2 linked regions of the Homo sapiens genome follow. The protein of the gene in region 1 interacts with the protein of each later gene in a pairwise test. Each region holds a gene or a part of one and is shown on either strand. Other genes may lie near its edges. The genes, in order: EPS15L1 and SIM2.

Region 1 (3,813 bases):
CCTTCCACCTCAGCCTCCCTAGTAGCTGGAATAGGTGGATGCCACCACACCTAGCTAATTTTATTTATTTATTTATTTTGTAGAGATGGGGTCTTGCTGTGTTATGCTGGCTGGTCTTGAACTCCTGGGCTTGAGGGATCCTCCTGCCTTGGCCTCCCAAAGTGCTGAGATTACAGGCATGAGCACTGTGCCTGGCCTAGCTCCATGGATTTTGATAAATTGTTTGATCAAGTCCTTGCTGTACTTCATCACACATACTTGCTACGTGAAACCCCTGAACTAAGCTGATCTGGGTCACATGGTATCCCTTGTTTCCCAAGCTTGCTTTCTGATTTCCCTGAGTTGGTATCAGGAGCCTGTTAGATTTGGACATCACAGGAGACTCGTTCATGAAGAGTAAACGAGTTTAACCATTGTTTCCCAGTCTTGACCATGAGTCCCTTCTCCTCAATCCTATGGACATCTTCGGGTTGTCAACACTGTGAGAACTCTTTGAGAAATCCCCCCCCCCTTTTTTTTTCCCCGAGACGGAGTCTTGCTCTGTCGCCCAGGCTGGAGTGCAGTGGCACAATCTCAGCTCCCTGCAACTTCTGCCTCCCAGGTTCAAGCAATTCTCCTGCCTCAGCCTCCTGAGTAGCTGGGATCACAGGTGCCTACCACCACACCTGGCTAATTTTTCGTGTTTTTAGTAGAGAGGGGGTTTCACCATGTTGGCCAATCTGGTCTCAAACTCCTGGCCTCAGGTGATCCACCCACCTCAGCCTCCCAAAGTGCTGGGATTATAGGTGTGAGCCACTGCACCCAGCCTAAGAAATCCTTTCATAACTGAGAGGAATGACTTTGAGTGGCAGTTTCAGGCATCATGGCGTTCATTGAAGGTGAGGAGTGGAGTGGCTTTTCTGTACAGTTGCTGCGTGGAGAAGGAACAATCGATCCCTCCAGCCACATTTGCCTGTCCTTTTTCTCTCCACTCCCTCATCATCTAGATAATTCAATCAGGTGTTTATTCTCATTGCTATTATGAGATTGTTTAAAAGGAGTGATTTGTGTAAATATTTAAAAAAAAAGGGAAGAGGAAAAGCACGTCTAGAGTTCAGGACACAGATGCCGTGAACTGTGGCGTGGTGGGTGTATTGAAGGCCCGCGGTAATGCAGGTGGAGTAGGCCACGGAAGGGGCCTGCCCCTGAGTGCCTGAGGGGCCTCAATGCCTCTGAACCAGGAGGTGACCGGGCCCTGGTTGACCCATGATGGCGTTTGCCTCTCTCAAGTTAACTGTGAGCTGGTGGCGAGAGGGGTCGCACGTGCAGCGGGTGACCCAGCCCCAGGGCTGTGAACTTTGAGCTGCACTGGGCTCGTGGCTCCATCTGCCCTGGTGGGGTTGGGGCTGCATGAATGTTGGTGGGGCCTCGTGGGTGGTGGCCCTCTTGGATGGTGGTGTCTCATTTGTTACCTGTCAGTGACGTGTGTGTACTCACACCTTGGGGGTATCTTTGTTGTCTCAGGAGTGGGGCAGGGACATAGAAGGGTGGTCTTCAGAGTCCTGGGACAGGACACTTTGGCTGCCTGTAGGGCAGCCTTTGCGGGCTGAGGAGTGGGAGGACCAGGGAGGCTGGCATGTGGCCGGGCCGGTTCTCCAGGGACGGTCCTTCCAAGTGGGTGCTCGGGAGGGTCTTTCCTGGCATGCTTGAACCCATCCCCTGAAGATCACAGCCTCCCTCACACCCTGGGTGGCAGGGTGGATGGACAAGGAGAGCGGGTGATGGGGTGGAGAGAGGTGCAGACTGGCATCTGGGTGAGCTTCACAGAGCCAGCCTCAACCTGTCTCAGCCTCAGTTTTGCCAGTTACAGAACAAGGATCACATCTGCCCTCTTGGCTCATGGAAGTGAGGAGAGTTTGATGCCAAATGTGCATGGAAGTGCTTTAATCGCCCCATCATCAAAAAGCATGTGTCTGGGGGTCATAAAAAGCTTCCAGATTAACTGTTTTGCCAAAAACTGTTTCAGCCAACAGTGAACTGGGTGGTGCCCGTGGCAGACAAGATGCGATTTGATGAGATATTCCTGAAGACCGACCTGGACCTGGATGGCTACGTGAGTGGCCAGGAGGTGAAGGAGATCTTCATGCACTCGGGCCTCACCCAGAACCTTCTAGCACACATATGGTAAGGCCGGACAGGTGGCAGTTGTGGCTGTGGGTGGCTCCAGGGGGCCTGTGGGTGAAGACTGTGGAGGGTGGTGGTCAGGGGGCCCCCTCCAGCCTGTCACAGGCTTCCGCTGTGTCTGGCGTCCTTTATTCTCCCTGGCCTGACAGAGGCTGAGCAAGGTGCACGTGCCAAGGCTCGAAGCCCGCGCTCCGTGACGGTCAGTTCACTGTCTTTCAGTAGGAAGGGCCTCTGGTCCGTCTTAAGTGCTCCCAGGCCATTTGCTTACACAGCTGGGCCCTATTCTTGCTGGCTGTGATGCTGGCTCTAACAGGAGGCCTGGACTTTGTCACAGCCGCCTCCGGGAGGTGCGGGCAGCAGGGCCTTGGAGCCTCTAGCAGAGTGGCCTGGCAGGGTGAGGGCGGGGGCAGGAGGCCCTGCTCTGGAAAGGCCAGTGCTTTGGCTCCTGGCGGGAGGGTGAGCACAAGGAGACCCTGTCAGTGCCTCAGAGCCCAGTCGAGGAGTCGGCCTCAACCCCTCTTTCCCCCAGGGCTGGACACAGCCGACTTCATAGGGCTGGGGCACTCCTCTTGCCACTGGCCAGGGCTGAAGTCACTTTTGAGCTTGTTGCTCAGAGCCTTGTGGCCTTAGAGAAGGCTTCACTTGGGAGCTATCAAAAGGAAAGAATTGCTGGATAATTCTCGAGAGGCAAATACCTCCAAGTAGAGCAGTGAAATTCAGGATGTTACTTAGTGGCTTGGGGGAAATGACTGTCCTTAGTGGTAATTCACAGATGACCACACTGTGAGGTGGGAGCCTGAGAACTAGCTGTCGCAGAGTCATCACCCAAATGGCCAAGCCGCCTCCAACTGGCTAGGGACAGTGGGTCTCAGCTGCCTCAGATCCAGTGTCCCTTTTAGAAACCAACAAAACACAGTGTCCCCTTTATGACTCTGAAACCAACACACATACAGTTCCTGGTTAGCGCCCTGACACCCTGACTGTCATGTCTAGGGGTCAGTAGAGGGAAAGTAATTTATAATGCATGCTGCAATTGACACATGATGTAATGACATGGAAATGACACAGGAAATCACTAATCCACCTGGATCAAAAGAAGGAACTCAGAGGTCATTCCATGCGGGCAGCAAAGGGGAAGGAAAGGATGATCAGGCTCTTGAATAACCATGAGAAAAGAAGTCTAGATGTGTCTGCGAGTGGCTGGGGCGGGGCATGGCCCAATGTAGATGACACACCAGGAGGGACTGGGAGGAGGGGGAGCATGAAGACAGAGGCTTTTTCCCTGCGATGGCTGCCACCGTACGGGTCAGCAGAGCAGGATGTGGTGTCAGAGCCGGATGGCCGCTGACTGAGCCACCCCTAAGCTTGCTTCTCCTTCTTTCTCTCAGAACCTTCCACAGGTGGGCCTTGGAGCCCACACTCCTTGAGAGATGGCAGGAGCAGAGAAGGGGCGGGAGTGGAGAGGCAGCTGCAGCCCACGAGCAGGCTGGGGCCCGCAGGGGCAGACTGGGGAGAGACAGTGGCAGTATGAAATCGTCAGGGCCTCGAACTGTGGGGATAACTAGGCATTTATCAGCAATGTTCTTTGAGATCTGCTCATTCTCCGCAGCTCTGTTCACGGACTGCATTTGGGTATAAATAAGTCTGTTA
Region 2 (3,813 bases), on another chromosome or scaffold:
AAGGAAACTCCCCAAGGTGCATTTCCAACAAAAATTCAGCCTTTGAGGCTCATATGCAACAAAAATTCAGCCTTCCTGTCATACCGCTGGGCAAAGCCCCCAGTCTCTGCCCAAACACTCCTGGGCTGTCTGTGGCCCTTTACGGTTCCTTTTCACCTTGCAGATGGCTCTTTCTCATCCACATCAAAATATTTTGGTGCAAAAGAAAATGCTGCACGGAGTTATTCACCTTAATATATAGGGGGTTCGTACAGATTGATAAAAACACAAAGACCCTAAAAGCAATATAGGCAAAGATCAAAGAATAAATATAATGGGCAAAATGATGAACAAATGCCCAACTCCCTTGTTTAACTCAAAGGCAGATCCATCCATCAGATCAACAGACATTAAAATAGAAACAAACATTGTATGATTCCCTTTACATGAAACTTCCAGAATAGGCACATCCACAGAGTCCAAAAACAAATGAGTGGGTGCCAGGGGCTGAAGCACGAGGGGGACTGGGGTGACAGGCTCCTTTTGGGATGATGAAAACGTTCTGGAATTAAAGGTGATAGTTGTTCAACACTGTGAATATAACTAAAAAACACTGAAAATGGTGAGAAAGGTGAATTTTATCTAAAAAAAAAAAAAAATGAAAGGCCAACAGGTGACACCGGCTAATCTATGGTGAGTGGCATTTTCTCTTTCTTTCTTTCTTTCTTTCTTTCTTTCTTTCTTTCTTTCTTTCTTTCTCTCTTTCTTTCTTTCTTCTCTTCTTTCTCTTTTTTTTTTTTTGAGACAGAGTCTCTCTGTGTTGCTCAGGCTGGAGTGCAGTGGCATGATCTCACTGAAACCTGCCTCCTGGGTTCAAGCAATTCTCCTGCCTCAGCCTCCCCAGTTTTGCCAGGTTGGCCAGGCTGGTCTCAAACTCCTGACCTCAAGTGGTCCGCCTACCTTGCCCTCCCATAGTTTGCCATTATGGCAAACTATGCAGCCATTGCAGGTGTGAGCCACGGCGCCTGGCCCAGTGAGAGGCATTTTCATGTGTGATGGAAGGATGAGTTGGTGGAAAGCAGTCTGATAGCTCACACCCTCTGACACACTGATCTCACTTCTAGGAATTGATCCTATGGAAATTGTGAGCAGGTCTGTGTGTGCAAACACAGACTTACCTACAAAGGGTTTCATTGCAATATTGCTGAAAATTCAGGGAAAAGGGGTGGGGAGAGACTTAACTCTTCAACGGTAGGGAAAAGAGTAAATACATTATGGCAAACTATGCAGCCATTAAAATGATGATTAATAAGAAATTGTTATATTATGGGAAATGTGTGATACAATGTTAACAGAAGAAAAGACAAGATTCAGAAATGTGTAAAGTATAACCCTAATTATGAAAAAGTGGGCACGTGCATACACTACCCCCTCCAACAAACTGTGTGATCCTAGACTAGCTACCAACCCCCCTGTGACTCAATTTCCTCATTTATAAAAAAAGGATAATCAGTCCTTACTTCATATGGTTGTTGAAAGATTAGATGATCTATTTGAGGATTTAGAACACTGGCAGACACAGCTGAAGGGCTCAATACATATTAACTTTTATCTGACTGAAAATGACAGATAATTTTCACTTTCTTCTTTTCAGCTTTCCTTGACTTTCTAAATTTCCAACGAGGAGGAGGTTTAACCAGAATGAAATGGTTTTGTTTTTTACATGGGAGAGAAGATTGTGGGGGTTGGGAGGCAGGAATCCAGTCTCCATCAAGCCCCACCACCCCGTCAGGATGAACCTGGGGACATGAGGCAGTGTTGCGTAACGAGCATGCCACCGGCTGGAGAGGGGTCTCTCCCGGACCATGCAGAGAGCAGCGCTTTTCTGCCCAGGCTTAACATCTGCATCTCAGCCGACTCAGATCACTGCTCAAGGGTATAGGCAAAGGCCATGGCAAAGAGAGAAGCCTGACAATGCTTCTCCTTTGGGGGTTTGCTTCTCTAATGAAAAGATACATGGTGTCTACTTCCAGCTCATTTCACAGGATTGCCTCATTCTACCCCCACTACAACAGTGGGAGGTGGGAGGTGGGCAGCACCAGGAAACCGGGGCCAACAGAGCTTGAGGGCACAGCTGGAGTCCAGCCCAGGTGTCCTCAAAGTGGCAGCTGTGGGAGGAGGGAGCAGCGGCCTCTGGAAAGTTCTCTATAGCTATTAGGTTGGTATAGAAGTACTTGCGATTTTTGCCATTACTTTTTTTTTGGAGACGGAGTCTTGGCTTTGCCACCCAGGCTGGAGTGCAGTGGCATGAGCTCAGCTCACTGCAACCTCCGCCTCCCAGGTTCAAGTGATTCTCCTGCCTCAGCCTCCCGAGTAGCTGGGATTACAGGCACCCACGACCACACCCGGCTAATTTTTTGTAGTTTAGTAGAGACGGGGTTTCACTATGTTGGCCAGGCTGGTCTCTAACTCCTGACCTCATGATCTGCCTGCCTTGGCCTCCCAAAGTTCTGGGATTACAGGCGTGAGCCACCGCATCTGGCTGCTATTACTTTCAAAGTAATACATTGAATAATACGTATGGGGGTGAGGTGGGCTCACCTTTTAAGGGAGACTTGGCCAATTTGTTTATGGTCCAAAATAACCAAGAGATGCAGCAGGCTCAGACTGAGGATCCATCCACGGATTTCAAGAGGACTAGTGCTCGCTAAGCTCTTCAACCTCAAAATCTATTCAAGCCCTTAGGAATATGGCCCCATGCTTTTTTCTTTTTGCTTTTTTTTTGCTTTTTTTTTTTTTTTTTTTTTGAGACAGGGTCTTGCTCTTTTGCCCAGGCTGGAGTGCAGTGGTACAATCTCGGCTCACTGCAACCTCCGTCTCCTGGGTTCAAGAGATTCTCCCTGCCTCAGACTCCTGAATAGCTGGGATTACAGGCGAATGCCACCACGCCCGGCTAAGTTTTGTATTGTTTAGTAGAGACGGGGTTTCACCATGTTGGCCAGGCTGGTCTCAAACTCCTGACCCCAAGTGACCCGCCCGCCTTGGCCTCCCAAAGTGGACATTGAAATGTTTTAATAGCTGCACATGGCCTGTGTTCTCTTTGTGGTCTGGGCTTGGCCCATTCTGGGCAGGAGCCTACCTAGAGAGCCGGGTGAAATTCTCAACAACCTTGGAAGAATAGCCATGTGGACATCACGGTTCTTCCAAACCATGGACAGCCCAGTGTCCCATGACACAAACTGTCAGGTTTACTGACACTGATCCCTTCTCCACCTATGGACCAGGCTGTGCTCAGCCCCCCCTGAGGGTCTGGGTCAACAGATCACAAGCCTTTGCCAGCTCCCCCTACATACAAGAAAAAGTCTCCCAAACATGAAACAAAGAAAGCGGGGAGGCAGAGCTCGGCTTTCCTGAGGCCAGGCTGGAGCATGGTGCCTTTAATCAGCCACCTCAGGTGGTGGGTGAGGCGTGGGGTGGGAGGGTCACAGTGGTTCCATTTATGATGATCCCGTGTTCACTTTTCTTTACAGAATGTTCTGGGGCCGGGTATGGTGGCTCATGCCTGTAATCCCAACACTTTGGGAGGTCAAGATGGGAGGATCACTTGAACACAGGAGCTTAAGCCCAGCCTGGGCAACATAGCAAGACCCCATCTTTACCAAAAACATTTAAAAATTCGCTGGGTATGGTGGTACATGCCTGTAGTCCCAGCTACTCAGGAGGCTGAGGCAGGAGGATCACTTCAGGCCAGAAGTTCAAGGTTAGAGTGAGCTCCGACCACGCTACTGTATTCCAGACTGGGTGACAGAGTGAGACCCTGTCTCTAAAAAATAA

The links.
Region 2: the proteins of EPS15L1 (region 1) and SIM2 interact in a two-hybrid assay, tested with the Homo sapiens proteins (one large-scale study listed by BioGRID and IntAct).

The regions. Positions count from the first base shown.
Region 1 is NC_000019.10:16,419,669-16,423,481, reverse strand, and holds part of EPS15L1 (epidermal growth factor receptor substrate 15-like 1), read left to right. Parts: intron 1-2,005; coding exon 2,006-2,163; intron 2,164-3,813.
Region 2 is NC_000021.9:36,736,935-36,740,747, reverse strand, and holds part of SIM2 (single-minded homolog 2 long isoform), read right to left. Parts: intron 1-3,813. UniProt on the Homo sapiens protein: Transcription factor that may be a master gene of CNS development in cooperation with Arnt. It may have pleiotropic effects in the tissues expressed during development.